Regions from separate parts of the Homo sapiens genome. Here regions 1, 2 and 3 are each linked to region 4. Evidence: fine-mapped expression QTL. A gene starts in region 4. Each other region holds a variant in brackets. All regions are shown on one strand. Distances are between the middles of the regions.

The links.
Region 1: its variant is fine-mapped to the expression of SCD in whole blood (INTERVAL, PIP 0.94).
Region 2: its variant is fine-mapped to the expression of SCD in whole blood (TOPMed, PIP 0.97).
Region 3: its variant is fine-mapped to the expression of SCD in whole blood (INTERVAL, PIP 0.97).

Annotation. Positions count from the first base shown.
Region 1 is chr10:100,414,093-100,422,200 of GRCh38, forward strand. No RefSeq gene overlaps it. Among named protein-coding and RNA genes, the nearest start is that of OLMALINC, 45 kb to the left of the region's middle. The variant G/C (reference allele first, on the strand shown) is at 4,929.
Region 2 is chr10:100,589,528-100,597,635 of GRCh38, forward strand. No RefSeq gene overlaps it. Among named protein-coding and RNA genes, the nearest start is that of HIF1AN, 58 kb to the left of the region's middle. The variant C/T (reference allele first, on the strand shown) is at 4,911.
Region 3 is chr10:99,988,539-99,996,646 of GRCh38, forward strand. All of the region lies in intron 1 of DNMBP (dynamin binding protein), which reads right to left. Among named protein-coding and RNA genes, the nearest start is that of DNMBP, 17 kb to the right of the region's middle. The variant CAA/C (reference allele first, on the strand shown) is at 3,367.
Region 4 is chr10:100,343,047-100,351,145 of GRCh38, forward strand. SCD (stearoyl-CoA desaturase) reads left to right here and starts at 4,187. Exons shown (of 6, transcript NM_005063.5): 1 at 4,187-4,485; 2 at 5,018-5,300. The coding sequence starts at 4,459. RefSeq lists silencers at 3,452-3,831, 4,032-4,081 and enhancers at 3,622-4,213, 3,862-3,931, 4,312-4,551.

The sequences.
Region 1 (8,108 bases), 71 kb after region 4:
AACCTCTGCCTCCCAGGTTCAAGCGATTCTCCTGTCTCAGCCTCTCGAGTACCTGGGACTACAGGCACACGCCACCACGCCCAGCTATTTTTTTATTTTTAGTAGAGATGAGGTTTCACCACATTGGCCAGGATGGTCTCAATCTCTTGATCTCATGATCCTCCTGCCTCGGCCTCCCAAACTGCTGGGATTATAGGTGTGAGCCACCGCACCCAGCCCATAAAACATTTTTTAAAAACAAAAGCAAGAAAGAAAAAAGCAAAAGTCCTGGACTCTGGGTCTATAAACTAATTTGCTTTCTTCCTAAAAAGTCTGTTTACGTTCCAAGACAGAAGAAATTCCCAATAGCTTTCTTTTTGTGGAGCAAATAAATGGAAGATGGAAGGAGGGAAGATAGGAGAAAAAGAAAGAAGGGAGGAAAGGAGAGACAGAATCAGATTAGTTTCAATTCAGACTTTTCACAAAAATACAAATTTTGGCCAAATTTTGAAAATATCAAGCATCTGCCGAGCGTGGTGGCTCATACCTGTAATCCCAGCCCTTTGGGAGGCAGAGGCGGGCTGATCACCTGAGGTCAGGAGTTCAAGACCAGCCTGGGCAACATGGTGAAACCCCATCTCTACTAAAAATACAAAAATTAGCTGGGCTGTGGTGGCACGCACCTGTAATCCCAGCTATTCAGGAGGCTGAGGCAGGGGAATCGCTTGAACTCAGGAGGCAAAGGTTGCAGTGAGCCGAGATCACATCACTGCACTCCAGCCTGGGTGACTCAAGGAGAGCCTGTCTCAAAAAAAAAAAAAAAAAAAAGACATGAAAACATGAAGCATCAGTAAATTGAACATGATACCTTCGTTTTTGTAGACCAAAGTGAATCACTTGGTAGATCACGCAGCAGTTCTGATCAATCTGGATAGAGTTGAGATAATGACATGCCCATCCTTAAGTGCGAAAGAGAGTGATGTCTCATTTAACCAGGTGGTGCCATCTCCAGTCACTGACCTTCTCTAAAGTGACTGCTTGGCACATACTGGTTGTTTCCATGGCCGAATTATTCCTATGCCAACTTGACTTATGAAATGCTTATGAGAAGTATAACAAATATTGTAAAGGCAGGGCACAGAGGCTCACTCCTGTAATCCCAGCACTTTGGGAGGCTGAGGTGGGTGGATCACTTGAGGTCAGGAGTTCGAGACCAGCCGGACAAACATGGTGAAACCCCGGCTCTACTGAAAATACAAAAAATTAGCTGGGTGTGGTGGTGGGCACCTATAATCCCAGCTACTCGGGAGCAGAGGCAGGAGGATTGCTTGAACCTGGGAGGTGGAGGTCGCAGTGAGGCAAGATTGTGCCACCGCACTCTAGCCTGGGCGACACAGCGAGGCTCCATCTCAAAAAAAAAAAAAAAAAAAAAATTGTAACGAAAGGCACAGACAGGTCAAGTGGGCTTTTTAAATTACACTTTCCTAATGTTTCTTTTCATGATGATAAGGTAGAAAACAAAGGTCGCCATGAGGATTTTCAAACCACCATTTGCAGGAGCACAAAAGAACAAAGATGTGTTTAAATATTAAAAATTTTCAAATCGAGCTAAGAAACAGTTAAATAAAATAAGAGAAAGATATATTCTTTCCCTTTCCCTTGACACATATGCCTTCATAACCTAGAAGGCTAGATTTGGGTTTAGAATTCTCAAGTTCCTGAGAGTCCCACACCAGAATGTGGTGGTGTGGGACGAGCTGGCCCCAGCACCAGCCTCCAGACCCCTTCACTCTCTGCCCCAGCTCTGTCCACACCAGGAGAGTTCTGATGCTCATTCATGTGAACTCTGCAGGTCCCATGTTTAAGTCTCATTCCACAACAATCAAGCAGCCACCCCCTTGGGTCTAGTGAGGTGTGCACAGGGGGTACAATACATCCTTGGGAGGACAGACCCAGGGAAGAGGTCCACGCAGGCTCTGGAAGTGGATCTGGGGACATTTGGGCAAGATATTTTGGGGTTCCAAGTTCCTAGTCTTTTGTGTGTATGTGTGTGTGTGTGTGTGAGACGGAGTCTTGCTCTGTCACCCAGGCTGAATGGAGTGCAGTGGCGCAATTTCGTCTCACTGCAACCTCTGCCTCCCAGGTTCAAGCGACTCTCCTGCCTCAGCCTCCCAAGTGGCTGAGATTACAGGCCTGTGCCACCACACCCAGCTAATTTTTGTATTTTTAGTACAGATGGGGTTTCAGCATGTTGGCTAAGCTGGTCTTGAACTGCTGACGTCAGGTGATCCATCCACCTCGGCCTCCCAAAGGGCTGGAATTACAGATGTGAGCCACCACACCTGGCCTCTATTTGTTAATTTTTAATATCAACTGTAGATGTTATCTTTTTAATATAGACAATCTCAAACTTTAGAGAAGTTGCAAGTACAGTTCAAAGAACCTTATCTTTTTCTGAACCATTTGAAAGCTAGTTGCCAGTTTAGCCCATCATGTTTGTATTCTTTCTTTCTTTTTATTATTATTTTCTCTCAAAAAGATAGAAACTCACACCTTTGCATTCTTTAGCGTGTGTTTCCAACAAGCATTCTCCTATATAACCACATTACAACCATAAACTCAGGCCTCGTTCAGTCGTCCCAAGAATGTCCTTTTTAGCAGAAGAATCCAATCTGGAATCATGCATTGCATACAGTCATCATGTCTCCTTAGTTGCCTTCAATTTAGAACAGTCTTTTCCTGACTTTCACAATCTTGACATTTCTAGCTTAATGGCCACTTGTTTTTTAGAACATCCCTCAATGTGGGCTTGACTAATGTATCCTCATGATGAGACTCAGCTTACGCATCTTTGTCAGAACTGTCACCAAGGCACCGATGCTGTGTTCTCACTGCATCCCATCCGGTGGCACGTGATTTATATTTGTCCCATTACTGGGGATAGTAATTTGGTTCAATTGATTAAGGTGGCGGAGGACGGGTACTTACTAATTATTTGGTGGGGAGATACTTTCCGACTATTGACTATCCTATTCTTCAGCAAATGGATGTCTCCTCACAGCACTTGGGATCCAGCCATGCACACCAGCTTCCCCTCCACATGGCTGCTCTCTTTACCCACCCCTGCCTGGTCGCTTCTCCTCTGCTTAGACTCCAGCACCTGATTTTAAGCACCACTCGTCCCCACAACCACTCCTGTCATGAAGACATCTACCTTGCTTACCATTAGGCTTTTGGATTAAAGTTGTTTATGAAGGGAAGAAGGGAAGGGCAGAAGAGGGAGGAAAGAGGAGGGCAGGAGAAGCAAGAGGAAAGCAAGAAGGGGAAGGAGTGAAAATGCAGAGGAAGAGAAAGAACAATATTGATTTACTTTCATAATGGAGAATATGGGAATAATCTGAATTAATGTTAATTCAACATTAGAAAACACTTCTTTTAAATCTGAAAAACAATAAGGGTTCTTATACTACGTTTTTGTTTTTTGTTTTGAGATGGAGTTTCACTCTTGTTGCCCAGGCTGGAGTGCAATGGCGCAATCTCGGCTTACTGCAACCTACACCTCCCGGGTTCAAGTAATTCTCCTGCCTCAGCCTCCCGAGTAGCTGGGATTATAGGCATGTACCACCATGCTCAGCTAATTTTGTATATTTTTTAGTAGAGACGGGGTTTCTCCATGTTGGTCAAGCTGGTCTCGAACTCTTAACCTCAGGTGATCTGCCTGCCTTGGCCTCCCAAAGTGCTGGGATTACAGGCTTGAGCCACCACAGCCGGCACTACGTTTTAATTATTATTATTTTTTCTCTTTGGTAAAATAAGCTCATACTATGATATCCACTTAATGTGGAAAAACTAAGAAAGGGATTTCTCTAGTTCATATGGCAAATGACCAGCTGAGCTAGGATAAAAAAAAAATTGTAGGGTGAAATCTGTTACTATCTTGTCTCTACTATCTTTGCCTGGCTAGTTTCTGCCTTTTGTTTAAAAATTATAGGTAGGATGGGTGCCGTGACTCACACCTATAATCCTGGCACTTTGGGAGGCTGAGGTGGGCAGATCACTTGAGCCCATGAGTTCAAGACCAGCCTGGGCAACATGGCGAAACCCCGTCTCTACAAAAAAATACAAAAATTAGCTGGATGTGGTGGCACATGCCTGTAGTCCCAGCTACTTGGGAGGCTGAGGTGATAGGATGGTTTGAGCCCAGGTGGCAGAGGTTGCAGTGAGCCAAGATCATGCCACTGCACTCCAGCCTGGGCAACTCTCAAAAAAATGAAAGAAAGGAAAGAAAAGGAAAAAAAGAAAGAGAGAGAGAGATAAAGAGAGAGAGAGAAAGAAAGAAAAAGAAAGAAAAAGAAAGAAAGAAAGAAAGAAAGAAGGAAGGAAGGAAGGAAGGAAGGAAGGAAGGAAGGAAGGAAGGAAAGAAGGAAGGAAAGGAAAGAAGTAAAGAAAAGTCCAGGCACAATGGCTCATGCCTGCAATCCCAGCATTTTGGGAGGCAGAGGTGGGCAGATAGCTTGAGCTCAGGAATTCGAGACCAGCCTTGGCAACATGGTGGAACTCCCATCTCCACACTCACACGTGCACAATTTAAAAAGAAAAAAGAAAAATTATGTGTAGAGTTAGTGCTTATATAGCGTGATTGAAGGCGACTTTGAGGTTCCAAATACCTGCTGGAAAAAAGCAATTCCCCTACACAGGTTGGGAAGTAAAACACCCCCAAAACCCCACAGTGGTATAGCTTCCAGTAAGTGTTTAAGTACACACATGGAGCTGGGCTGGAGGCACGAGCTCATATTTCCAGATACTCGGGAGGCTGAGGGGAGAAGATATCTTGAGTCCAGGAGTTCAAGTCCAGCCTGGGCAACAAAGTGGGAGACCCCATCTCTGAAAACAAAACAAAACAAAACAAACCACATCTATTGCCTGAAAGACAGCAGGCTTTTAAGATA[G/C]AGTCCTTTAAACATCTCCTGGCCAGGCGCGGTGGCTCACACCTGTAATCTCAGCACTTTGGGAGACCAAGGTGGGTGGATCATCTGAGGTCAGGAGTTCAAGACCAGCCTGGCCAACGTGGTGAAACCCTGTCTCTACTAAAAATACAAAAATTAGATGAGCATGGTGGTGTGTGCCTGTAATTCCAGTTACTCAGGAGGCTGAGGCAGGAGAATTGCTTGAACCCCTTTGCAGTGAGCCGAGATCATGCCACTGCACTCCAGCCTGGGGTGACAGAGCAATACAGTAGCTTAAAAAAAAAAATCTATTGAGAAGGCTGAAGGCTGGGCACAGTGGCTCACACCCATAATCCTAGCACTTTGGGAGGCTGAGGTGGGAAGAACGTTTGACCCTTGGAGTTCGAGACCAGCCTGGGTAACGTGGCCAGACCTCATCTTAATCAGCAAGGAAGGAAGGAAGGAAGGGAGGGAGGGAGGGAGGGAGGGAGGGAGGGAGGGAAAGAAGAAAAGAAAGAAAAAGAAAGAAAGAAAGAAAGAGAAAGAAAGAAAGAAGAAAGAAAGGAAGGAAGAAAGAAAGGAAGGAAGGAAAGAAGGAAGGAGGAAGGAAAGAAAGATAGATCTATTGAGGCAGGACATGGTGACTCATGCCTGTAATCTCAGCACTTTGTGAAGCTGAGGCAGGAGGATTGCTTGAGGCCAGGTGTTCAAGACCAGCCAGGGCAACATAGCGAGACCCTGTCTCTAAAAAACAAAAACTAAAAAAGTTAGTCATGTGTGGTGCTGCATGCCTGTAGCCCCAGCTACTTGGGAGGCGGGAGCATAACTTAAGCCCAGGAGTTCGAGGTTTCAGTGAGCTGTGAATACATCACTGCACTCCAGCCTGGGTGACAGAGGGAGATTCTGTCTCAAAAGAAAAGGAAAGAAAAGAAAAGAAATATCTATTGAATGCCTGCCTTGGGCCAGGTACTGCTAGGGAGATGGCAGTGAACTAGACAATCATGGTACCGGTCCTCATAGAGCACCACAGTACAAATATGATGAATGTTACAAAAGCAGAAACCACAGGGGCTAGGAGAGGGTATAATACGGGAAGCTGACCTGGTAATCTTTTTGGAGACTTGAAGAAAAGAGGAATTAGCTAAGTGAAAAGTCAGTGGGAGAAGAGAGAGGAGGCAGCAGAGTGCTCTAGGCAGAGGGAAAAGTATACAGTGAGGCCCTAAAAGTAGGGCCTCACAGAAATAGAACTAGGAGAAGGGTGGCTAGCGGTAAGGTAAAGATATAAGCAAGGAGGGACCAGGACATAGAGGGCCTCTCAAGCCATGGTAAGAAGTGTAGACTTTATCCCAAGGGCAATAGAAAACCAATGAAGTGTTTTAAGCAGGAAGGTGACACGCAGAATTGCATTTTTAAAAGATCACTATGGATCTAGCATGGTAAATAGACTGTGGGGGCAAGGATAGACACAGGGGAGCCAGTTAGGAAGGTATTTCGGTAGTCTAAGTTGAGATACTGATAGCAGTGAAGTGGAGAGAAGAGGACAATCTGGAGACTTCGGAGTTAGAATTAACAGCACCTGGTGATTCAATGCAGGAGGAGAAAGCGTCAAAGATGATTCCTTACCTTTTCCTTGGTAGCGCTTTCAATTATGACTAAGTAGTTATTTGTGCAAGTATTTGTTTAGCTGCCTTCCCCACAAGATTATAAACAACCCTAGGACAGGGATTTATCTTGAACATCTTACTTAGGTACATGCTGTAGCAGGGTGTGTGGCACATAGTGGTGTTTAAAAACGATGTGTTAAGGCTGGGCGCGGTGGCTCATGCCTGTAATCCCAGCACTTTGGGAGGCCTCAGGAGATCGAGACCATCCTGGCAAACACGGTGAAACCCTGTCTCTACTAAAAATACAAAAAAAAATTAGCCGGGCGTGGTGGCAGATGCCTGTAGTCCCAGCTACTCGGGAGGGTGAGGCTGAGGCAGGAGAATGGTGTGAACCCGGGAGGTGGAGCTTGCTGTGAACCGAGATTGCGCCACTGCACTCTAGCCTGGGCGACAGAGCAAAACTCCGTCTCAAAAAAAAAAAAAAAAAAAAAAAAAGAAAGAAAAGAAAAGAAAGAAAGAAAGAAAAAAAAAATATATATATATATAAATTAGCCAGGCATAGTGGTGGGTGCCTGTAATCCCAGCTACTCTGGAGCCTGAGGCAGGAGAATCACTTGAACCTGGGGGGCAGAGGTTGCAGTGAGCCGAGATCGTGCCATTGCACTCCAGCCTGGGGCAACAAGAGCGAAACTCTGTCTCAAAAAATAAAATAAAAACTATGTGTTAAGGCCGGGCATGGTGGCTCATGCCTGTAATCCCAGCACATTGGGAGGCTGAGGTGGGCAGATCACTTGAGGTCAGGAGTTCAAGACCAGCGTGGTCAACATGGTAAAACCCCATATCTACTAAAAAGCAAACAAATTAGCCAGGCTGTGGTGGTGGACGCCTGTAATCCCAGCTAGTAGGGAGGCTGAGGGAGGAGAATTTCTTAAACCTGGGAGGTGGAGGTTGCAGTGAGCCAAAATTATGCTACTGCACTATAGCTTGGGTGACAGAGTGAGACTCCATCTCAAAAAACAAAACAAAACAAAAAAAGCTATGTGTTGGCTGGGCTTGGTGGCTCACGCCTGTAATCCCAGCATTTTGGGAGGCCAGGGAGGGAGGATCGCTTGAGCCCAGGAGTTTGAGAGCAGCCTGGGCAACATAGTGAGACCCCACCTCTACAGAAAAATAAAATAAAATTGGTTAAGCGTGGTGGTGCATGTCTGTAGTCCAAGCTACTAGGGAGGCTAAGGTGGGAGGATGGCTTCAGCCTGGGAGGTGGAGGCTGCAATGAGTCATGATCACACCAGACCCTGTCTCAAACAAAACAAAACTGTTGGTTACATTGTATTTCTCAGCAACCGGGTTTATGGTGATATCACTCACTGAGTTTGGGACATGGAGAATGAAGAAGAGGTTTGGGGGATGAGTTTAGTTTTTTTTTTATTTTTATTTTTATTTTTATTTTTTATTTTTACAGAGTCTCACTCTGTTGCCCAGGCTGGAGTGCAGTGGTGCAATCTTGGCTCACTGCAACCTCTGACTCCCAGGTTCAGCTACTTGCCTCAGCCTCCCTAGTAGCTGGGATGACAGGCGT
Region 2 (8,108 bases), 250 kb after region 4:
AGGCAGGAAAAAGAAAACAAATAAAAAACAGAAATAACAGCAAACAAAAAATAAAGTGGCAGACTTAGGCCCTAACATTGATAATTACATTAAATATAAATGGCCTATGTACATAAACTAAAAAACATAGCTTGGCAGAATTGATTGGTATTTATGATCCAACTATATGCTGCCTATAAGAAACTCACTTCAAGTATAACTATATAAGCAGACTGAAAGAAAAAGGGTGGAAAAAGATATATCATACAAATGTGAATCAAAATAGGAATGGCTACATTAATATCAGATAAGGTCTACCTTAGAGCAAAGAAAATTATCTCAGATGGAGAGGGACGTGATGTAATTATAACAGTGTCAATCCATCAAGAAGACATAACAATCCTAAATGTCTATGCACCAAGCAACAGAGTTGCAAAATATGTGAAGCAAAACCTGATAGAACTGAAGGAAGAAACAGACAAATACATAGTTGAGGACTTCAACACACCCTCAACAATTGATAGAACTAAATAGATAGAAAACCAAAATAACTCAACAATACCATCAACTATTAGGGTCTCATTGACATTTATAAAGCACTCCATTCAACAACAGCAAAATACACATTTTTTCCAAGTGCCCATAGGACATATGCCAAGATAGAGCATATGCTGAGCCATTAAACAAACTCAGCAAATTTAAAAGAATTGAAATCATATAGAGTGTGTTCTTTGACCACAAATGGAATTTTTAAAAAATTGAATTGATAATAGAAAGATTGCAAGAAAATCTTCAAACACTTGGAAACAAAACAACACACTTGTAAATAATCCATGGGTCAAAGAGGTAGTCACAAAGATACACCAAACTGAACAAAAATGATAATACAACATCTTAAAATTTGTGAGTCATAGCTAAAGCAGTGGTGACAGGAAAATTTATAGCACCAAATTTATGCATTAGAAAAGAAGAAAATTTCAAATCAACCATCTAAGCTTCTACTTCATGAATCTAGAAAAAGAAGAGCAAAGGAAATCCAAAGCAAGTGGAGGAAGGAAACAATAAAGAAAAGAGCAAAAGCCAACAAAACTAGAAATGTGAAAATGATAGAGAAAATCAGTGAAACAAAGAGCTAGTTCTTTGGAAGATCAATAAAACTAATAATCCTCTAGCAAGACTGACAAAAAATAAAGAATGAAGACACAAATTACCCATATCGAGAATAAAACAAGAGATATCACTACAGACCCTGCAGACATCAAATGGATAATGGAATACTATGAAAAACTACACATATAAATATTGACAATTTAGATGAACTGGACAAATTTCTTTAAAAATACAAACTACCCCAACTCCCCCAACAGGAAATAGATAATTTGAATAGCCCTCTATTAAGGAAATTGAATTCATAATTTAAAAACTCCCCAAAAAGGAAATCTTCAGGCCTATATGGTTTTACTGGAGAGTTCTAACAAATGTTTAAAGAAGAAGGAACAACATTATGTAATCTCTTCCAGAAAATAGAAGAAGAGGGAACACTTTCCAATTAATTTTATGAAACTAATATTACCCATCATCAAAGATGGTATGAAAAAAAGAAAAAAAAGAAAATTACAGACCAATATTCTTCATGAAAATAAATGTAGAAACACTCAAGAAAATACTAGCAAATAGAACCCAGCAATATATAATAAAAATTAGATACCATGAGTAGTTGGAGTTTATTCCAAGGATGAAAGGCTGATCCAATATTCAAAAATCAACTAATGTACTTTACCCTATTAACAGACTAAAGAAGAAGAATCACATAATCATATCAGTTGATGCAGAAAAAGCATTTGACAAAATCAAATTGGAATATCTAAACCGGTGCCATAATACAAGAAAAGGAAATAAAAAGCATACAGATCAGGCCAGGCACAGTGGCTCACACCTGTAATTTCAGTACTTGGGGAGGCCGAGGCGAGTAGATTACTTGAGGCCAGGAATTCAAGACCAACCTGGCCAACATGGCAAAACACTGTCTCTACCAAAAATACAAAAATTAGCCAGGCGTGATGGCAAATGTCTCTAGTCCTAGCTACTCGGGAGACAGGCACGAGAATCGCTTGAACTTGGGAGGTGGATGTTGCAGTGGGCTGAGAACATGTCACTGGACTCCAGCCTGGCAAGATTCTGTTAAAAAAAAAAAAGCATACAGATCAGAAAAGAAGACATTCTTTTCTGCTGAGAAAATCCAAAGGAATCTACAAAAAAAGTTCTAGAACTAAAAAGTGAGTTCAGCAAGGTTGAAGAATACAAGATAAATATGCAAAAACATCGATTGTATTTCTACATACTAGCAATGAACAGATGGACACTGAAATTAAAAATGAAACACTATTTACAGTCACTCAAAAGTAAAATAAAATACTCAGATGTAAATACAACAAAACATGCAGAACTTGTGTACTGAAAACTGCAAAATGCTGATGAAATAAATAAAAGAAGATCCAATAAATAAATGAAGAGACATACCATATTTACAGATTGGAGGACTTAGCCAAGTGTGGTGGCTCACCCCTGTAATCTCAGCACTTTGGGAATCTGAGGCAGGCAGATCGCTTTAGTCCTGGAGTTGGAGACCAGCTTGGGCAACATGGCGAAACTCCATCTCTACAAAAAATACAAAAAAATTAGTCAGGCATGGTGATGCACACCTGCAGTCATAGCTACTCAGGAGGCTGAAGTGGAAAGATCATCTCTCCACAGCCCAAGAGTTCCAGGCTGCAGTGAGCCATGATCATGCCACTGCACTCCAGCCTGGGTGACAGAGTGAGACGCTGTCTCAAAAAAAAAAAAAAAAAAAAAAAAAAAATTGGAAGACTCAATACAATAAAGATGTTGATTCTTCCCAAGTTGATATACAGGTCTAACAAAATTCCTGTGAAAATCACAGCAAGATGTTTTGCAAATATAGATAAGATTATCCTAAAATTTATCTGTTAAAGGCAAAGGAGCTAAAATAGCTAAAAACAATTTTGAAAAAGAAGGATAAAGCTATAGTAACCAAGAGATTGGTAGAGGTATATACACATAGATTAATGAAACAGAATAGAGAATCCAGAAATACAGCCACACAAATATGCCCAGCTGATTTTTGGCAAAAGTACAAAAATAACTCAATGGAAGAAAGATGGTCTTTTCAACAAATGGCTCTGGAGCAAGTGGATATCTGTAGCTACCCCCTGCCCCCACCCCCACCAAAAAAAGGAAAAAAACCTCAACCTAAGGTCTCACACCTTATTCACAGTTTAACTTGAAATGAATCACAGGCTGGACATGGTGGCTCACGCCTGTAATCCCGACACTGTGTGAGGGCAAGGTGGGCAGATCATGAGGTCAGGAGATCAAGACCATCCTGGCCAACATGGTGAAACCACGTCTCTACTAAAAATACAAAAATTAGCTGAGCATGGTGGCACATGCCTGTAACCCCAGCTACTCAGGAGGCTGAGGCAGGAGAATTGCTTGAACCAGGGAGTCGGAGGTTGCAGTGAGCCGAGACCGCACCACTGTACTCCAGCCTGGTGACAGAGCAAAACTCTGTCTCAAAACAAACAAACAAACAAACAAAAACCAAACAACAACAAAAAAATTGAATCACAGACTCAAGTGCACAAATGTAAAATATAAAATTATAAAACATTTAGTAAAGAACATAGGCAAAAATCATCAGAATCTAGGACTAGGCAAAGAATTCTTAGACTTGATACCACAAGTATGAGCCAGAAACTGGGCATGGTGGTTCATACGTGTAATCCTAGTGCTTAGGGAAACCGAGGTGGGAGGATTGCTTGAGGTCAGGAGTTTGAGACCAGCCTTGTCAACACTGTGAGACCCTGTCTCTAAAAAAAAAAAAAAAAAAAAAGTCATGAAGATATTAAATTTTTTAAAATAAAATTTTTAAAATAAAATTTTTAAAAATAAAAGCATGATCCATATAAGGAAAAATTGATATATTGGACTTTATCAATTTTAATATTTTAGCTCTATGAAAGACTCTGTTAAGAGGATGAAAAGACAAACTAGAGATTGAGATGAAATATTAGCAAACCACATGTCCAACAAAGAACTAATATCTAGAATATATAAAGAATATTTAGACCAGGCACAGTGGCTCACACCTGTAATCCCAACACATTGGGAGGCTGAGGTGGGTGAATTGCCTGAGACCAGCCTGGGCAATATAGTGAGACCTCATTTCTACAAAAAATTTTAAAAATTAGCCAAGCCTAGTGGTGCGTACCTGTAGTTCCAGCTACTTGGGAGGCTGAGGTGGGAGGATTGCTTGAGCCCGGGAGGTGGAGGTTGAAGTGAGCCATGATCACGCCCACTGCACTCCAGCCTGGGCAACAGAGTGAGACTCTCTCTCGAAAAAAATAAATAAATAAATAAATTTAAAAAGACCATTTAAAACTCAACAGTAAAAACAAAACAAAAACCAATAAACCAATTAGAAGATGGGCAAAAGACATGAAGAGACATTTCTCTGAAGAGGATATATACATATGGCAAATAATCACACGAAAAGATGTTCAGAAAAATTAGCTCATTAGGATAATTTTTTTAAAAAACCCAGTGAGATATCATACACGCCTGTTGGTAGTGGGATTGTACCTATGAATAGCCACTGCACTCCAGCCTGGACAATATAGCAAGACCCCATCTCTTAAAAACAGAAAAAAAAATGTAGGTGACAATCCCAAATGCTGGCAAGAATGCAGGGATGGTCACTGACACATTGCTGGTGGGGATGTCAAATGGTATAGTCACTTTGGAAAATAGTTTGGCAGTTTCTTAAAAAAATTAAACATACACTTATCATAGGATCCAGCAAGTGTACTCCTAGGTGTTTATAATGATGTCCTCACAAAACCTGTACACAA[C/T]TGTTCATAGCAGCTTTATTAATCATAACCCCAAACCGGAAATAATCCTGATATCCCTCAGTGGGTGAATGGTGCATGGTGGTACATCCATGCCAAGGAATACTACCTAGTAATAAAGAAGAATGAAGTAATAGTACATGCAGTGACCTAGACCTAGATTCTCCAGAAAATTATGCTGAGTGAAAAATCCAGTCTCAGAAGGTTACACACTGGCCGGGCGCGGTGGCTCACACCTTTTATCTCAGCACTTTGGGAGGCCGAGGCAGGCGGATCACTTGAGGTCAGGAGTTTGAGACCAGTCTGGGCAACATGACAAAACCCCATCTCTACTAAAAATACAAAAAACTATCCGGGTGTAGTGGTGTGCACCTGTAGTCCCAGCTGCTTGGGAGACTGAGGCACCAGAATTGCTTGAACCCAGGTTAAGGTTGCAGTGAGCCGAGATGGCGTCGCTGCACTCCAGCCTGGGTGACAGAGTGAGATTTTATTTTTTTATCAAAAAATAAAAAATAAAAAAGGTTACGTATTGTATGGCTTCATTTATGTGATATTCTTGAAATGACAAAATTATAAAAATGGAGAACAGATTAGTGGTTGCCAGTGGCTACGAAGGGAGTGAGGGCTAGGCAGAAGAAGGTGTGGCTACAAAATGGCAACAGAAATGATCCCAGTGGTGATCGAAATGTTCTGTACTTTGGCTGTTATTGATGTCAATGTCCTGCTTGTGATACTGTGCTCCAGTTTTGTAAGATGTTACCATTAGGCAGGTGAAACTGTGCAAAGGGTATTGTTTTATTTCCTGCAACTGCACATGAATCTAAAATTGCCTCAAAATAGAAAGATTAATTTTAAGAAACAATAAAAGAAAATTAGTACAACTTGTTTTGCACAAGTTCTTCATAGACCTCACCCTGAGAGATGGAGCACAGCTGAAATAGTATATCAAGAATCAAAAAGGCCGGGCATGGTGGCTCACACCTGTAATCCAAACACTTTGGGAGGCTGAAGCATGTGGATCACTTGAGGCAAGGAGTTCGAGACCAGTCTGGCCAACATGGTGAAACTCTGTCTCTACCAAAATACAGAAATGAGCTGGGCATGGTGATGCATGCCTGTAATCCCAGCTACTTGGGAGGCTGAGGTAGGAGAATGGCTTGAATCCAGGAGGCAGAGGTTGCAGTGAGCCGAGATCGCACCACTGCACTCCAGCTTGGGAGACAGAGCAAGATTCTATCTCAAAAAAACAAAACAAACAAAAAAAGAATCAAAAAAGGTTGAAGTAAATGCACGTATGGAAATTCCCAAAAGCATTCTGTGATCCTTGAGGCTCCCCTTTAATGCCAGGGAAAACAGCTATTTCCCCTCTAACACTCTTGGAGATTATGTCAATACTGGGATGTGGGCGTAAGATTACAGGCATGAGATTACACCTGTAATCTCAGCATTCTGGGAGGCCAAGGCAGGAGGATTGCTTGAGACCAGGAGTTCAAGACCAGCCTGGGCAAAAAAGTGAGACCCACATCTCTACAAAAATAAATAAATAAACAAACAGACAAATAAATAAATATAACAAAATTAGCCAGGCGTGGTGGTGTATGCCTGTGGTCCCAGCTATAAGGGAGGCCGAGGCAAAAGGATCACTTGAGCCCAGGAGGTAGAGGCTGCAGTGAGCCGTGTTTGTGCCATTGCACCCCAGCCTGGGTGAAAGAAAGAGACGCTGTCTTTAAAAAAAAGAGGCGGGTGGGGGGTTCTGAAATTAAGGGGGCCATTGGACAAAGCTAGAAGGCAAGTCTTCAGTTTTTATGCTGCAGGAAGATTTGAAAGGAGCTGTGGGATAGATGTGAGGGAGAGCAGAGCCGGTTTAGAGACCAGCCCATCCAGGAATCCTCTACAGCCATTGCTCTAGTTAGGCATCCCCTCCCCTCTGTCCCATTAACCTCCATTATAATCCAGTAAGATCAATAACTTTCTTATCAGTTTCCCTCTCTAAACCCTACGTTTCTGGAGGGCTGGGGCCACTTCACAGTTTGCCTTTACATACCATAATTTTTTTTTAATTTTAACTTAAAACAAATAAAGGAATATTTGCTGTCCACTTTGTTCATGTAGGACCAAGACCTTTCTTTGTGTATGGATGCACTGATTGACATTTCACCATCATCTTTCTTTTCTCTCTTTCTTTCTCTCTCTCTCTCTGTCTCTTTCTCCCTCTCTCCTTCCCTCTCTTTCTCCCTCCCTCCCTTCCTCCCTTCCTTCCTTCCTCCCTTTCTTTCTTTCTTTCGTCTCTCTCTCTCTTTTTTTTTTTTTTGACAGAGTCTGACTTTGTCGCCCAGGCTGGAGTGCAGTGGCGCGATCTGGGCTCACTGTAACCTCCGCCTCCCGGGTTCAATGGATTCTCCTGCCTCAGCCTCCCAAGTAGCTGGGATGACAGGTGCCCGCCACCATAGCTGGCTAACTTTTGTATTTTTAGTAGAGACGAGGTTTCACCATGTTGGCCAGGCTGGTCTCGAACTCCTGACCTCAGGTGATCCACCTGCCTCGGCCTCCCAAAGTGCTGGGATTACCGGCATGAGTCATCACACCCAGCCTCATCTTTCTTTAATGAGCTACACCCAGAATGTGCTGACTGCCATTTTCAGCTTTGATTTCTTTAACATTGATTGGGAATTGGAAAGTATTTGAGAACCAATATGAGTGAAATTCCTAGGTTTTTTTTTATGATTGTTCCTCATCTTTTCCAGTTGTCTCACCAATACATAATTTGATAACAAAAACTTTAAGCAAGTTGGTGTTATGGAATTTTTCCAAACAGCAACATTAGTTTTGCACTTGTATTTTATTGGTTTATGTAACATTTAGTTAAATTAGATAAGAATAGTATGTGCAGCTGGCATAAACAGGCTGCGTTAAAAACAAATCACTCTGGTCGGGCACGGTGGCTCAAGCCTGTAATCCCAGCACTTTGGGAGGCCGAGGCGGGCGGATCACGAGATCAGGAAATCGAGACCATCCTGGCTACCACGGTGAAACCCGGTCTCTACTAAAAATACAAAAAATCAGCCGGTCGCGGTGGCGGGCGCCTGTAGCCCCAGCTACTCGGGAGGCTGAGGCAGGAGAATGGCATGAACCTGGGAGGCGGAGCTTGCAGTGAGCGGAGATCGTGCCACTGCACTCCAGCCTGGGCGACAGAGCGAGACT
Region 3 (8,108 bases), 350 kb before region 4:
TCATACTAGCAACACTGAAACGAGACAAAGATCAGTGCATCATTTAACCACCATAATTCACAATTTGTCCCCACTCCTCTAGCAATATCTTGATATCTCTGACAATTTTATTTTTATTTTTATTTATTTATTTATTTATTTGAGACGGAGTCTTGCTCTGTCACCCAGGCTGGAGTGCAGTGGTTCAATCTTGGCTCACTGCAACCTCTGCCTCCTGGGTTCAAGTGACTCTCCTGCCTCAGCCTCCCGAGGAGCTGGGACTACAGGCATGAACCACCATACCCGGCTAATTTTTGTATTTTTAGTAGAGATGGGGTTTTACCATGTTGGCCAGGCTGGTCTCAAACTCCTGATCTCAAGTGATTTGTCTGCCTCGGCCTCCCAAAAGTGCTGAGATTATGGGCGTGAGCCACTGCACCCAGCCAACTTTTAGCCCTTTCTATACCCATGTCCATTCACCTCTATATTCAAACTTTTTCAGCTACTTCTTATTCTTATAATATATACGCTAGTAGACAGAACTGCTATTCAATAATCCTCACCCTCTTGTAGGAATTATATATCCTTACAAGATGTGTAATTATATGTGTATAATAATGTATATCATTATGTATATCATTAATAGTATACAAATATAGAATTGCATATCCATACCCTTTACTGTGTAATCATGCAGTGCCTCCCACTACAGGCAGAGTATGTTTCCCTGTCACATTTTGGTAGGACTTGGAGTGGAGTGGAGATGGCATAAGCACAGGCTTTCAGCCATTATTTTATGGTTTGGCCTGTCCTCTGGTGCTCCTGTAATCTGCCATTAGAAGAGCATGCCCTGAAAGCCCCTGGCTCTTTAGCCTGGGCCCCAGAATGAAGACAAGAAAAAACAGACTTGAGGCCAGGCGCAGTGGCTCACGCCTGTAATCCCAGCACTTTGGGAGGCTGAGGCAGGTGGATCATCTGAGGTCAAGAATTCGAGACCAGCCTAGCCAAGAAGGTGAAGCCCCATCTCTACTAAAAATACAAAAATTAGCCAGGTGTGGTGGTGGGCACCTGTGATCCCAGCTATTTGGGACACTGAGACAGGAGAATCACTTGAACCTGGGAGGCGGAGGTTGCAGTGAGCCGAGATCGCGCCATCGCACTCCAGCCTGGGCAACAAGAGCGAAACTCTGTCTCAAAAAAAAGAAAAAACAGACTTGAACCCAAATGGAAGACTATAGGATTCAACCTAGTCTAGCTCAGATCAGCTAAACTGCTATGTACCCCCTCTTCTATTAAACTGCTATGTACCCCCTCTTCTATTAAACTGCTATGTACCCCCTCTTCTATTAAACTGCCCCCTCTTCTATTAAACCCATACATAACTCTTACCATCTGAGTTAACTATTCTCTTTTGGATCCATCCCTGTTTCCTGTATGTCCTACAGGGCAGGGATTCTTTTTGTCTATTTTATTCACTGATGTCAATCAAGCACCTAGAGTTCTGCCTGATACACAGTAAGCCCTCCGTAAATATTTGCATGATGAATGGTTTAACATACTGAACTGTCTTAATTTATACATCAAAACGTACATTCACATTCCCAGTGATCACACTATTCTTTCCCACAGAGGTACATGAGGTTTCACAGGACTTATTTCCAGGTTAGGAAGGTTGGGTTTTGTTTTTTGGGCAATTAGCGGCACCTGAAGATTTTTTAGTAGGCAGATACAATGGTTAAAATTAGGATTGGCTGGCTAGGCGTGGTGGCTCATGCCTGTAATCCCAGCACTTTGAGAGGCTAAGGTGGGCAGATGGCTTGAGCTCAGGAGTTTGAGACCAGTCTGGGCAACATGGTGAAACTCATCTCTACTGAAAATACAAAAATTAGCTGGGCATGGTGGCGTGCAACCATAGTCCCAGCTACTCGGGAGGCTGAGGTGGGAGGATGGCTTCCACCCAGGAGGCAGAGGTTGCAGTGAGCTGAGATACACCACTGCACTCCGGCCTGGGTGACAAAGCCAGATCCTGTCTCAAAAAAAAAAATAAAAAATAGGATTGGTTGCAAATGACTAAACACCCCAAATTAATGAATAAAAAAAAAAAAAAGGACAAGAAAGACAGTGTGTGTATAAGTGTATATATATACACACATATACATATATACACACATATATATACACACACATATATACACACATATACACACAAATATACATATATATGCACATGTATATACACATATATACACATATATACACATATATACACACATATATACACACATATATACACATATATATATATACACATATACATATACACACACACACACACATATATATATATATATATAGCTTTTTCCAGGTGAAGGCAAAGATATTCTAAGCAACATCATTATTCTGGTTGTTTCTCTTCATCTCATTTTTTAAAAACAGGTTTATTGAGACATAATTCACATACTATACAATTCACCCATTTAAAGTGTACAATGAGTTTTTAGCATATTCAGAGTTGTGTGACCATTATCACTATCAATTTTAGAACTTCAAAACCTCATAAAGAATTTTTTTTTTTTTTTGAGATGAAGTCTCACTCTCTTGCCCAAGCTAGAGTGCAGTGGCGTGATCTCGGCTCACTGCAACCTCTGCCTCCCGGGTTCAATCGATTCTCCTGCCTCAGCCTCCTGAGTAGCTGGGACTACAGGCACGTGCCACCATGCCCGGCTGATGTTTGTATTTTTAGTAGAGACAGAGTTTCACTATGTCAGCCAGGGTGGTCTCAAACTCCTGACCTCGTGATCTGCCCACCTCGGCCTCCCAAAGTGCTGGGATTACAGGCGTGAGCCACCGCGGCCGGTCTGAGAAATTTTATACTCACTAGCAGTCACTTCCCATTTCCCCACAACATCCCCTCTCCTCTCCAGCCCTAGGCAAACACTAATCTACTTTCTCTATATATAGATTTGCCTATTTGGGACATTTCATATAAATGAAATCATGTAATATGTGGTCTTTTGTGATTGGCTTCCTAGTACAATGTTTTCAAGGTCTTCATATCATTTTAAAATAGAAATATGATCAGCTTCATCATGAAGACCTTGAAAACATTGTGCTAAGAAGCCAATCACAAAAGACCCCATATACTCTGGGAGGCCAAGGCAGGCGGATCACAAGGTCAGGAGATCGAGACCATCCTGGCTAACATGGTGAAACCCCATCTCTACTAAAAATACAAAAAGTTAGCCAGGCGTGGTGGCAGGCGCCTGTAGTCCCAGCTACTCGGGAGGCTGAGGCAGGAGAATGGTGTGAACCCAGGAGGCGAAGTTTGCAGTGAGCCGAGATTGCACCACTGCACTCCTACCTGGGTGACAGAGCGAGACTCCACCT[CAA/C]AAAAAAAAAAAAAAAGAAATATGATCAGCTTAGAGCGTATGTAAGTTAAGCTGGGAGCAGTAGCACATGCCTGTAATCTCACCACTTTAGGAGGCCAAGGGGGCAGATGGCTTGAGCTCAGGAGTTCAAGACCAGCCTGGGCAACATAGTGAGACCCCATCTCTAAAACAAAAAATCCAAAAATTGGGCGGGTGAGGTGGCATGTGCCTATTGTCCCAGCTACTTGGGAGGCTAAAGTGGGAGGACTGCTTGAGTCCAGGATGTTGAGGCTGCAGTGAGCTGAGATCACACCACTGCACTCCAGCCTGGGTGACAGAGCAAGATCCCGTCTCAAAAACAAAACAAAACAAAATGTAATAGTTAAGAGCACAGACTATAGAGCCAGACTACCTAGATCTATATGGCAGCTCCATCCCTTATTACAGCAATTACTTAACTTTTTATTAAAACAATTACTTAATTACTTACTTGCTTCTTTGGAGCAAGTTAATTCTCTGTGTCTTAACTTTCTTATCTGTAAAATGGGTTTAATAATAGAACCTGGCTGGGTAAAGTGGCTCACGCCTGTAATCCCAGCACTCTGGGAGGCTGAGGCAGGTAGATTGCCTGAATCTAGGAGTTTTTTTTTTTTTTTTTTGAGACGGAGTCTGGCTCTGTCACCCAGGCTGGAGTGCGGTGGCGTGATCTCGGCTCACTGCAAGCTCCACCTCCTGGGTTCACGCCATTCTCCTGCCTTAGCCTCCCGAGTAGCTGGGACTATAGGCGCCCGCCACTAAGCCCGGCTAATTTTTTGTGTTTTTAGTAGAGATGGGGTTTCACCGTGTTAGCCAGGATGGTCTCGATCTCATGACCTCGTGATCTACTCGCCTGGGCCTCCCAAAGTGCTGGGATTACAGGCATAAGACACCGCATCCGGCCGAGTCTAGGAGTTTTAAGACCAGACTGGGCAACATGGTGAAATCTGGTCTCTACAAAAAATACAAAAAATTAGCTGGGCATGGTGGTGTGCAACTGTAGCCCCAGCTAGTCAGGAGGCTGAGGTGGGAGGATCACTTGAGCCCAGGAGGTCAAGGCTGCAGTGAGTGGTGATTGCACCCTCTAATCTGGGCTACAGAGCAAGACCCTGACTCAACATAAAAATAAAAATAAAGATTCAACATAAAAATAAAAATAAAACCTGCTCATAGGGTTGTAATGAAATTAATATATGTAAAGCACTGAAAATAGTACCTCACAAATAGTAAGCATTACACCAGTGTCAGCTATTATCATTATCTGCATTAAAGAGAGAGGAATTGTAGATAGACACTCCCAAAACCTTTTTCATAGCATTGGGATGTATTCTGGTATTTAATATGTTTGAAAATGAATGTCTCAGGAATGGAAAATGAGCACTGACTGCTACTGGGTATGAAGTTTCTTTTGGGGGTAATGAAAATGCTCTGGAATTAGTGGTGAATGGGTGTACAACTTTGTGGATATACTAAAAACCACTGAATTATATACTTTTAAAAGGTGAATTTTATGGTATGTGAATTGTATCTCAATTTTTAAAAGTAAGTGTCTCTCCTCTTTCCGAAATCTCTATACTTCACACAAAATAGTGAAGGCAGGCCAGGCATGTTGGCTCATGCCTGTAATCCCAGCATTTTGGGAGGCCAAGGGGGTTGGATCACTTGAGGCCAGGAGTTCAAGACCAGTCTGGGCAACATAGTGAGACTGTCTCTACAAAAATTTATTAAAAATTAGCTGGGCATGCTGGTGTGCACCTGTAGTCCTAGCTACTTGGGAGGCTGAGGTGGAAGGATCGCTTAAGCCTGGGAGATTTGAGGCTGCAGTGAGCTGTGATCATGCCACTGCATTCCAGCCTGGGCAACAAAGCAAGACCCTGTCTTTAAAAAAACTGTGAAGGTAGAAAAAAAATAGAGAAGGCATACATGAATATTCTGCCTTGAAAAAAGCTAGAAATTTAAATAGCTTCCCTATTCTGCCACCCACATCCACCTCCCCTCCCCTACAAAGTTTTTCCTACACTTAATGTTTTAATAGATACTTTAAACTTGTGTTTTATGCCTGTTATAGGATGGGCATGGAGGGTAGGTAACAAACACAGTGTTTGATTAAGTGAACTTTCACTGGGTGGATGATGCTACATAAAAGAGCAAATTTAAAGAGAAGTCATATTTGCTACTGAATTGTATTAAGTAATAACTACATAACAGTTAGGAGCCCAGACTCCAGTCAGACAGAATTTAGTTTCAATTTCTGGCTCTGCCATTTATCAAGCTATGTGACCTTGGGCAAGTTACTTAAACCCCTCTGAACTTTAGTTTCCTCATCTGTAATGGAAGATAATAACAGTAATTTATTTCATAGGGCGTATAAGGATTAAATTTGATAATGTAGGTAAAACATTTAATACATTTCCTGGCAAATGGTACATACAGTACTCAGTAAATGTCAGCAATGAGAACAGTGATGACAATGGCGGGTGATGACGATTATGACCATCATCACCCAGGCGGAGGGGAACATAAATAATAGGGATGAGACAGCAGGCTCTAGGCGGGGCCAACTTCTCAAAACTGCTGCTGTCTTCTTGAGAGGAAGGGGGAGTCATGTGACTCTGTGGTTACTGGTCACCAGGACAACGCAATTGACGTGCCCCTCTACTCTAAGCTCTAAAATGAGCTGTGTCTTCACAGCAGACCCACAAGGATTTGGCAGAAGTTTATAAATGAGATCCCTGCATATGGGTCCAGGAAAGCCTTTGCCAAATGCCTTCCAGGAATAGAAGAGGGATATGAAATCAATTTACTGACTGTTCTAAAACATATCCTGTACTTCTAGGAAAAACATTGGCATTACTGTTAAATCCTTTAAACACATCAAACTATGATTCTCATCATCTTTTCTTTGGGGCTCCTGCAATAGCTTCCTAAATGGCTACCTACCAATCTTATCTGCCTTTGTCCTATTTTCCACACCCAACTAGGATTATCTTCTTAAAAATGGTTTTGTTTGTTTGTTTAAAGAGACAGGGTCTTGCTATGTTGCCCAGGCTGGACTCAAACTCCTACTCAAGTGATCCTATGGCTTCAGCCTCCCAAGCAGCTGGGCATGCGCCACTGTGCCCAGCTTGAAAACAATTTTTTTTTTTTTTTTGAGACAGTCTCACTCTGTTGCCCAGACTGGAGTGCGGTGGTGCGATGACAGCTCACTGCAGCCTTGACCTCCCAGTCTCAAGCAATCCTCCCATCTCAGCCTCCCAAGTAGCTGGGACGGCAGACGTGGGCCATCACGCTCAGCTAATTTTTGTATTTTTTGTAGAGATGGATTTCCCCATGTTGCCCAGGTTGGTCTCTTCCTGGGCTCAAGCCATCCACCCACCTTAGCCTCCTGAACTGCTGGGATTACAGGCATGATCACGGCACCTGGCAAAAACAGAAATCTTATACATCTTTACCGCCTGAAGTTCCTCTAAGGCTTCCCCATCCATCACTTGCAGGAAGTGTCTAAAACTTGTTTGCAGATCATACAAAGCTTGTCATGAGCTAGTCCCGGCATACAAGTTTGACCTCATTTCTTGACACCCTTCTACCTACCATATACACTAAGCTCTAGCCTCACCAAAATACTGGCAGGGGAATCTAGGAAAAAGACATCCAATTTTGTTTAAGTCATGACCAAACAGGCTTGTTGGGGGCATTTCATGGGGTGAGCTTTGAAGTGCTGGTGGGCCAGAGTGGTTGCAGATATGTGACTTGGAGCACCTGTGTCTTATGATGGACAGAAATAAAAGTGAATACACAGAGAGACAGGCTATTCTATAAGAATGTGACAAACAATCTGGAAGAGCAACTATATAAACACTGTCTGATTATCTTTGCCTTTTGGGGCCAGTGGCTGTTGCCAAAATAATAAACACGTCTGTCTTCAAGAAGGGACAGTGGAGTCACCCAGGTGCTGCCACGTCAGGCACAGTAGGCATTGATCTACAATGGGCAGTTCTCTGCAAGGCCACGTGGACACATTATTACAGTACAATTACATTTACAGACTGCTTTTCAAATACATTATCTCCTGTATGTATTATTGCTACCTGTGAACAGTTGTGAACATGAAGTGCTATTTTTATTGTTAGCTGATCACTGCAGGGAAAACAATCAGTAAACTAGCAAATCACCTCTCATCAACACTTACTGTGAATAATAATTATATTTTAATTTTTAAACGTTTGGAATCACAAGAAGAGAATATTCACCAAGCCTGAATCCCACCTATGGGATACAAGAATAACGTTTGAACATGTTGGTAAAATTCAACCCAAAGGCTGGGGGCGGTGGTTCACACCTGTAATCTCAGAACTTTGGGAGGCCAAGGCAGGTGGATCACCTGAGGTCAGAAGTTTGAGACCAGCCTGGCCAAAATGGCGAAACCCCGTCTCTACTAAAAATAAAAAATTGGCCAGGCATGGTGGCACCCGCCTGTAATCCCAGCTACTCAGGAGGCTGAGACACGAGGATCACTTGAAACCAGGAGGCAGCGGTTGCAGTGAGCCGAAATCGCACCACTGCAATCCAGCCTGAGTGACAAAGCGAGACTCCAACTAAATTAAAAAAATAAAATTCAACCCAAAAGATTTTCATAACTGTTTTCAACATCTTTAATCAAAGCAAAATCCTTACTTAAAATAACCAGCTAGTAAAATAATAATAAAAGTATTAAGTAGGGTTATA
Region 4 (8,099 bases):
CCAGAGGTGGAGGTTGCAGTGAGCTGAGATCGTGCCACTGCACTCCAGCTTGGGCAACAGAGCAAGACTCCACCCCCACCCCCCAGGTTCAAGCGATTGTCCTGCCTCAGCCTGCCTCAGCCTCCCAAGCAGCTAGGATTATAGGTGCCCGCCACCACCCTGGGCTAATTTTTTGTATTTTTAGTAGAGACGGGGTTTCACCATGTTGCCCAGGCTGATCTGGAACTCCTGACCGCAGGCGATCTACCCGCCTCGGCCTCCCAAAAGTGCTAGCATTACAAGCGTGAGCCACCATGCCCAGTCTTTAGTTTTTTTTTTTTTTTATACTTTTCTTATTGAGATATAATTTATATACCATAGAATTCATCCATTTAAATCATACAATTTAATGGCTTTTAGTATATTCACAGGTTGTGCATCCATCACAATCCATTTTAGAACAGTTTTATTACTCCAAAAATAAACCCTGCATTCCTTAGCCATCACCCCCCAACATCCTCCATCCTCCTTCCAAGCCCTGGGCAACCACCAATCTACTTTCTGTCTCTATAAATTTGCCAATTCTGGACATTTCATATAAATGGAAGCAAACAACATGTGAGACTTTGTGACTGGCTGCTTTCACTTAGCATTCTATTTTTAAGGCTCATTATGTTACAGTACTTAGCAGTACTTCATTCTTTTTTATTCTCAAATGGTATTCCACTGTGTGGGTATCCCATATCATATTATTAGAGACAGGTTCTCACTCTGTCACCCAGGCTGGAGTGCAGTGGCACAATCATAGCTCACTGTAACCTCAAACTCCTGGGCTCAAGTGATCCTACTACCTCAGCCTCCAGAGTAGCTAGGACTACAGGCACACACAGCCATACCTGGCTAATTTTTTTTTTTAATTTTCATTTTATGTATTCATTTTCTTTCTTTTTTGTTGTTGTTGTTTTGAGATAGGGTCTCACTTTGTTACCCAGGCTGGAGGGCAGTGGCATGGTGACAGCTGAGCAGCCTTGACTTCCTGGGCTCAAGTGATCCTCCTGCCTCAGCCTCCCAAGTAGCTGGGACTACAAACACGTGTCACCATGCCTGGCTGATATTTTTTTTCTTGAAACAGGGTATCACTCTGTTGCCCAGGCTGGAGTACAGTGGCGTAATAATAGCTCACTGCAGCCTCCCCTCCTGGGCTCAAGCAATCCGCTGGCCTCAGCATCCTGAGTAGCTGGGACTACAGGCTTGTGCCACCAGGCCCAGCTAAGTTTTAAAAAATGATTTTTGGTATAGAGGAGGTCTTGCTATGTTGCTCAGGCTGTATTTTTATTGTTGAGACAAGGTCTCACTATGTTGCCATGATCCCCCCACCTCCACTTCCCAAAGTGCTCATCTTATCTGTTCATTAGTCAGTTGACAGACATTTAGGTTGTTTCCACTTTTTGACCATTATGAATAATACTCCAGTGAATATTCATGTATACATTTGTGTGGGCATATGTTTTCATTTCTGTTGGGTTTATATCTAGGAGTGGAATTGCTGGATCCCGGGTAATATTTTGACAGGCAGAGTTCAGGGGAAGAAAAACTTGGGAAAATGAAGCATGTTTAGAAATCAGCAAGAGTGCAGGGGTTTTTCGGAGTTTTATTTTATATTCTGTTGACAAATGTGCAGTTTGATGAAGATACAAGTTATACTAAGTGAGAAGTGAGAATTAAGGCTGGAATAGGGCGTTCAGAGTAAAATCATGAAGCACTTTGAATACCAAAATTAAGGAGCTTGGCTGTAAACAAAATAATAAAAAATCACAATTTTTTTTTTTTTTTTGAGAAAGAGTCTTGCTCTTTCACCCTGGCTGGAGGGCAGTGGTGTGATCTCAGCTCACTGCAACTTTCGCCTCCCGGGTTCAAGCAATTCTCCTGCTTCAGCCTCCCAAGTAGCTGGGACTACAGGCACTTCCCACCATGCCCAGCTGATTTTTGTATTTTTAGTAGAGATGGGATTTCACTTTGTTGGCCAAGCTGGTCTCAAACTTTTTGCTGTCATAATTGTTGTAACTATTGTTCCTTTTGCTGAGGTAGGGCCCCCAGACCAAAAAAAATAAATCTTAGAATCCAAATCAGTGTGTTGGTTTGACCACTGTCACTTGAGAACCACAGTGTGACCAGGGCCTCAGGAGTAGAGGTGATCTCTGCTCGAAAGAGAAATAGAATGAAAATATTCTCCGGGCCAGGCGTGGTGGCTCATGCCTGTAATCCCAGCACTTTGGGAGGCCAAGGCATGTGGATCACCTGAGGTCAGGAGTTCAAAACCAGCCTGGCCAACATGGTGAAACCCCGTCTCTACTAAAAATACAAAAAATTAGCTAAGTGTGGTGGCGCATGCCTGTAATCCCAGCTACTTGGGAGGGTGAGGCAGGAGAATTTCTTGAACCCGGGAGGCAGAGGTTGCAGTGAAGCGAGATCACACCACTGCACTCCAGCCTGGGGGAGAGAGCGAGACTTCCTCTCAAAAAAACAAAAAACAAAAGAATTAAGCAAATTAGACATTGCAGAGAGAACCTGAAGGGGGTCAGACCACGTACAGATTTCTGTGCCACATGCCAAGTACTTCTGAGGCATGACTGGATGAGCTGTCCACATCTGAAATCATCCAGTCTTGTTCAGAACTTTCACACCGGACAGGGAGCCAGGACTGGAATGCAGTCTCCTGGTCACTGGCCAGAGAGTTGGCCTGACCCTGAGACCAGTGGCCAACAAAGGAGCTGCTTAGTCTACCTCCCAGGAAATCCCAGGTGCTTGTCTTCCTGGGAAGTGAATCATTGGCGCAGCACTCCGTATTTTCTCCTCTTCCCAGGGGAAGGATCCTAGGGCAGTATTTGGGAAAGACATGGGCATGGAAGGACACCGGGTGAATGCATAGCCTGCCTGGTTCTGAGCTCTCATGGTAAGGCTCCTACAGACACGGAAAAGATGGGGGCACAGGGACAGATCAGTAGGGTCAGAGCATCTCAGGGACCGAGGGCAATATGGTCCTGAGCAGGGATTAAGAGCTTGGGCTCTCATATGGTGTTTCTGGGCTCAACTGCCAGCTCCATCACTTACTGGTTGCTGTGACCATGGGCAAGTTATTCCATCTCTCCATATCTCTTTCCTCACTTTTAAAATGGAATAATGGGGTACCCACCTCCCAGGGTCACAGAGAGGCTTACAGAAAACGATTCTTGTGAATTGGCTTGCAGTAATAATTCAATACCTGCCAGCTATTCTTATTCCACATCCAAGCCCTTTCGCCTGCTGCTGGGTGAAAACACATGTCAGTGTTTCCTGACGGTTTCCACAAAGAAGATTCCAAAATTACAACCTGCCAGTCTGAAGAATCTCCAAAACATCCCGCACGCATCCTGGAGGCGCGGGCTTGGGGATGGGACTGCCCGCCCGGGTCCTGAACAGGATGCGTGCGCGCAGGCACACACACACCAGCCAGCCTGTGTGTGCGGCCGGAGTCCGGTGCGGTCCCGGGTGAGCAGCGCGTGGCTGGTGGGCGGGGCAGAGCCATTGTTCGCAGGCGTACCGAGTCCCCCGCGCTCGCCCGGGAGGGAGGCGGGGCTTCCCGCGTCCCCCAAGCTCCAGATCCTGGGGTGGCTGCCACGTCTCCCTGCCACGCGCCTGGGGGGACGGAAGACGGGACGGAGATGTTAGTGGTGGGCGCCCCCCGAGGGTTCACCACTGTTTCCTGAGAAACTTCCCCAGTGCCCACCCACCCGTTCTCCGTGTGCCCGAGGGCCGGTCCTGGGCTAGGCTCCGCGCCCCAGCCCCAAACCGGGTCCCCAGCCCCTTCCAGAGAGAAAGCTCCCGACGCGGGATGCCGGGCAGAGGCCCAGCGGCGGGTGGAAGAGAAGCTGAGAAGGAGAAACAGAGGGGAGGGGGAGCGAGGAGCTGGCGGCAGAGGGAACAGCAGATTGCGCCGAGCCAATGGCAACGGCAGGACGAGGTGGCACCAAATTCCCTTCGGCCAATGACGAGCCGGAGTTTACAGAAGCCTCATTAGCATTTCCCCAGAGGCAGGGGCAGGGGCAGAGGCCGGGTGGTGTGGTGTCGGTGTCGGCAGCATCCCCGGCGCCCTGCTGCGGTCGCCGCGAGCCTCGGCCTCTGTCTCCTCCCCCTCCCGCCCTTACCTCCACGCGGGACCGCCCGCGCCAGTCAACTCCTCGCACTTTGCCCCTGCTTGGCAGCGGATAAAAGGGGGCTGAGGAAATACCGGACACGGTCACCCGTTGCCAGCTCTAGCCTTTAAATTCCCGGCTCGGGGACCTCCACGCACCGCGGCTAGCGCCGACAACCAGCTAGCGTGCAAGGCGCCGCGGCTCAGCGCGTACCGGCGGGCTTCGAAACCGCAGTCCTCCGGCGACCCCGAACTCCGCTCCGGAGCCTCAGCCCCCTGGAAAGTGATCCCGGCATCCGAGAGCCAAGATGCCGGCCCACTTGCTGCAGGACGATGTGAGTTTCCCAGCCTGGCCCCGTACCGCCGGGTCGCAGGCGCGGGCTGGGCTTCCAGGGGACGGGTTGGTGGCAGAAGAGAGGGGAGAGCTCCGCGGAGGACTTGGTCATCTTTTTCGAGTTGTGCTGCCTTCCGTGAGTTGGGAATGTGGATTGTAATTTGGGGACTTGAGTCTCCAACTTTAGTTTCTTAAGCTTTAAAGAAAAATCCGGTCGTGCTGGTGCTTTTATGAATTATGCGGGTTTTCCTTTGTCTTCGTGGGGATGTGAGTGCTTTACTTCTCCTTCCTACTGCCGCCTCCCGATAGGTTTCGCGCCCCTCGTCCCCCTCGCCCTCCGCCCCTAATGTATCTGTACAGTTTCAGGGAACTTTTCTCCGTTGCGTCTCGGATACACCCTACCCTCAGTGAACTACGGCGCTGCGGAAGGGTCCGTACTGTCCACCCTTCCCCCAGCGTGATTAGAGAGCGGAGTGGCCCCAGCTGCCTCCACGTGTCTCTTCTCCTGACTCTCCTCTTCCTCCCCCTTCCAGATCTCTAGCTCCTATACCACCACCACCACCATTACAGCGCCTCCCTCCAGGGTCCTGCAGAATGGAGGAGATAAGTTGGAGACGATGCCCCTCTACTTGGAAGACGACATTCGCCCTGATATAAAAGATGATATATATGACCCCACCTACAAGGATAAGGAAGGCCCAAGCCCCAAGGTTGAATATGTCTGGAGAAACATCATCCTTATGTCTCTGCTACACTTGGGAGCCCTGTATGGGATCACTTTGATTCCTACCTGCAAGTTCTACACCTGGCTTTGGGGTAAGCAGCCTCCCTGTCCTCCTGACCTAGTCCTCCAGGTACTCACTGCTCTTTTAATAAGGTAGGATCTTACAGAGGACACCAGCCCCTCCCAGCCTCCCGGTTGGGGTTTTTCTCAGGCATTTCTCTTTGGTTGCTTCAGGCCTAGTGGGCTGGGAAGAACCTGGGGGTACTGAGATGCAGGACTGTCAATGCTGGGGGTTGAGAGCTTTGGAACCTTGTGCTTGTGGGCTTTGAAGTGTGCTGTGCTGGAGAGTCAGCTTTCCCTGAAAGAGCTTTTCTGTTTGAGTCATTTGCTTGGCTGCCTGTCCCACCCCTGCCAGCCACAAAAGAATCAAACCCCTCTACCTGGGAGGCATGGGAACATGGTACTAAACCATTGGCTTTCTAGGGTTTGTGTTGAGCAATCATAGGCTAGCACAAGGGAAACTACTCAGGGAGAGAGTTTATTGGAAAGGGAGGAGAGAGCTCATTGGAAAGAGAGGAAAAGAGAGGTTGTTATCCACAAAACTATTTTGACCTGACCCCTTGGCCAGACCAGGCTTCTTCGTTACAGAGGAAGATGAAGCTCCCGTGCAACCCAAGTCACACAGGTGTGTGTTGCTCTGTTACTCTACATTCCAGGGTGCTGCACATACCAGTCAACAAAATGCTCTTAGAATGAAATCAGGCTGAAGATATGTTTCATGTTCCATCCCCCGTCCAGCCTGCTTCAGGCCCCCCTACTGATGCCATGAAGTGCCAAGAATTCTGCACCTTCCAACACCAGTCCTACCCATCCCTCCTTGCCAGGGACATCGAGGCCAGGCCAGAAAAGAGAGCCCGGTCTTGAGGCTGCTGTAATGAGGGAGACAGTTCCCAGTTTGTCCCCGACCTGCCCTTAGCTCAGCTCTTTCAGGGACCTGTTGGTGTGGCCTGATGGCATGGCCCTGCCCCCTGGATACACACATGCGCTTTGCAGGCTTTTTCACCTCTGTCACTATGAGCCTAAGTTGGGAAGGGAAAGCAGGGAGCTCTGCAGATCCAGGGGCCCTGCACTGCTACTCTCTAAGGGGTGGTGAGCCAGGACTTCTGGTGTGGGAAACTTTCTGACAGCTCGCTCTTGAAGGGTAGTTATGCAGAAGGGCTGGTAGGCCAAGTTTTAGCTGTTTCCCTCAGGACCTCTTAGGTCTTCTGAAGATGGTGAGATCTGGTTCATTGAGCTTTTGTTTCCAGAAATCCTCCAGGTGCTACAGTGAAATGCAACTGAGAAGAGCCCCTTTGTCAGGATCTCAGTTTTTCTAGGTACCACCTGTGGGCAACAGTACTTTTTTAGGATGGGGAAGGTAGCATTCCTTGGGTTACATATGTGTCACAGCCGCAGAGACAGAACAGGCCAGGTGCAGATCAGTTCATCTGCATACCAGGAAGAGCTCTTGTATTTGTGAGGGGAGGGCGACATCTGTTGTCTAGCCCCTCTGAGGATCCAGCAGAACTTCAGTTGCAGCTGAGGGATGAGGAGCAGGGATAGCATTCCCCAGGCAGTCTGTGGATGCCTCTCTCCACCCTTTCTCCCCAAGAGGATAGTCTTCACAAGTAGTTTTCTCTCCTGCAAGCTCCTTCCAGCCTCAGCACCCCCTGTAGGTTTCCTGAAGCCCAGAGTTTGACCCGATTGCCTCTGCTTGGTTATCCTCAGTTGCTACTGCAAGGAGCAGAATTCCATCCCAAAGTGAAGGCTGTGCCTGCTACATTTTTTTGGTGACCTGCCCATGGGTGTGTGCTGTGCCCTTGGGCAGATAAATGTGGCTCACAGAGACTAGATGGTAACTTATTTTACTGGGCCCTTTGGTGGATGGCTTAGCTGAAAGAATGACCATGTCGATGTGGGGATATCAGAACTCCTCTGTCTTGAGAAACAAGGAGGGTGAGGGGAGGAGGGTCAGAGGTCTCAACTTGGACATCTTCTCTTCCCACCTTCAGAATTTAGGAGCTTCACCTTTCTTGTTTTAATCCCTATGGACAATGTTAAATTAGCAACTGGTCGTGATTCCAGCATTTCTTATGACTGAGCACTTTTGAGAGCCTTAAATCTCTTTCATTTTGGAGTCTCCCAAAGAAGCCCTTAGGAGAATGCCTCTGGCAACACTGAGAGCCAGAGGCAAAACCATTCAAGTCTCTTTCTTAAGGCCAGAGCAATGAGATGTTGCTTAACCATCAATCTGGACATTTTCCTCCCCTGGGGAGGAGAGAAGGAATAAATCTCCAACTGATTTAAGCCCTTCTATTTGATAGGCTTAGAGGTGTTTCTAGAAAAGGCACCAGAGTGCCTGAGTTCTTTCCCCAATTTCCCTGTTAATATAGGATCTTATATACGTTCTGAGTCAACACTGCCCTAGGGTCTTGCAGCAAATAACAACCCTAGAAGCTCCCTTGCTCATTAGAGAGAGCTCTGGCTCAACTGATGGTTTCCCGAGTAAGATGCAGGTAGATACTGTATCTGGGGAGATGTCAGTCACCACTTGGCTTGAGGGCAGATCACCTGGGGCCTCAGTCCCCACTCTGAGGGAATGTGGAGAGAGCTCTTGTTGGGGCTGACTGGCTCTGTGGCTCTCCTGGAGATCTTATAGGAGGAATAGAAGAGAAGAAAGGAGGTAGGGTTGGGGGGAAAAGGAGGTTGTTTAGGAAACAGCTATCAATGGCTGCAAAAGAACACAGGACAATTTGTTACAATGTGTGGTGTCTCCAACTGCAACTAAGTTCTGTGGCCACTGAGGATCTATTGTTTCTAGCTGTTTCCCTAGGAATGAAACATTGTTAAGA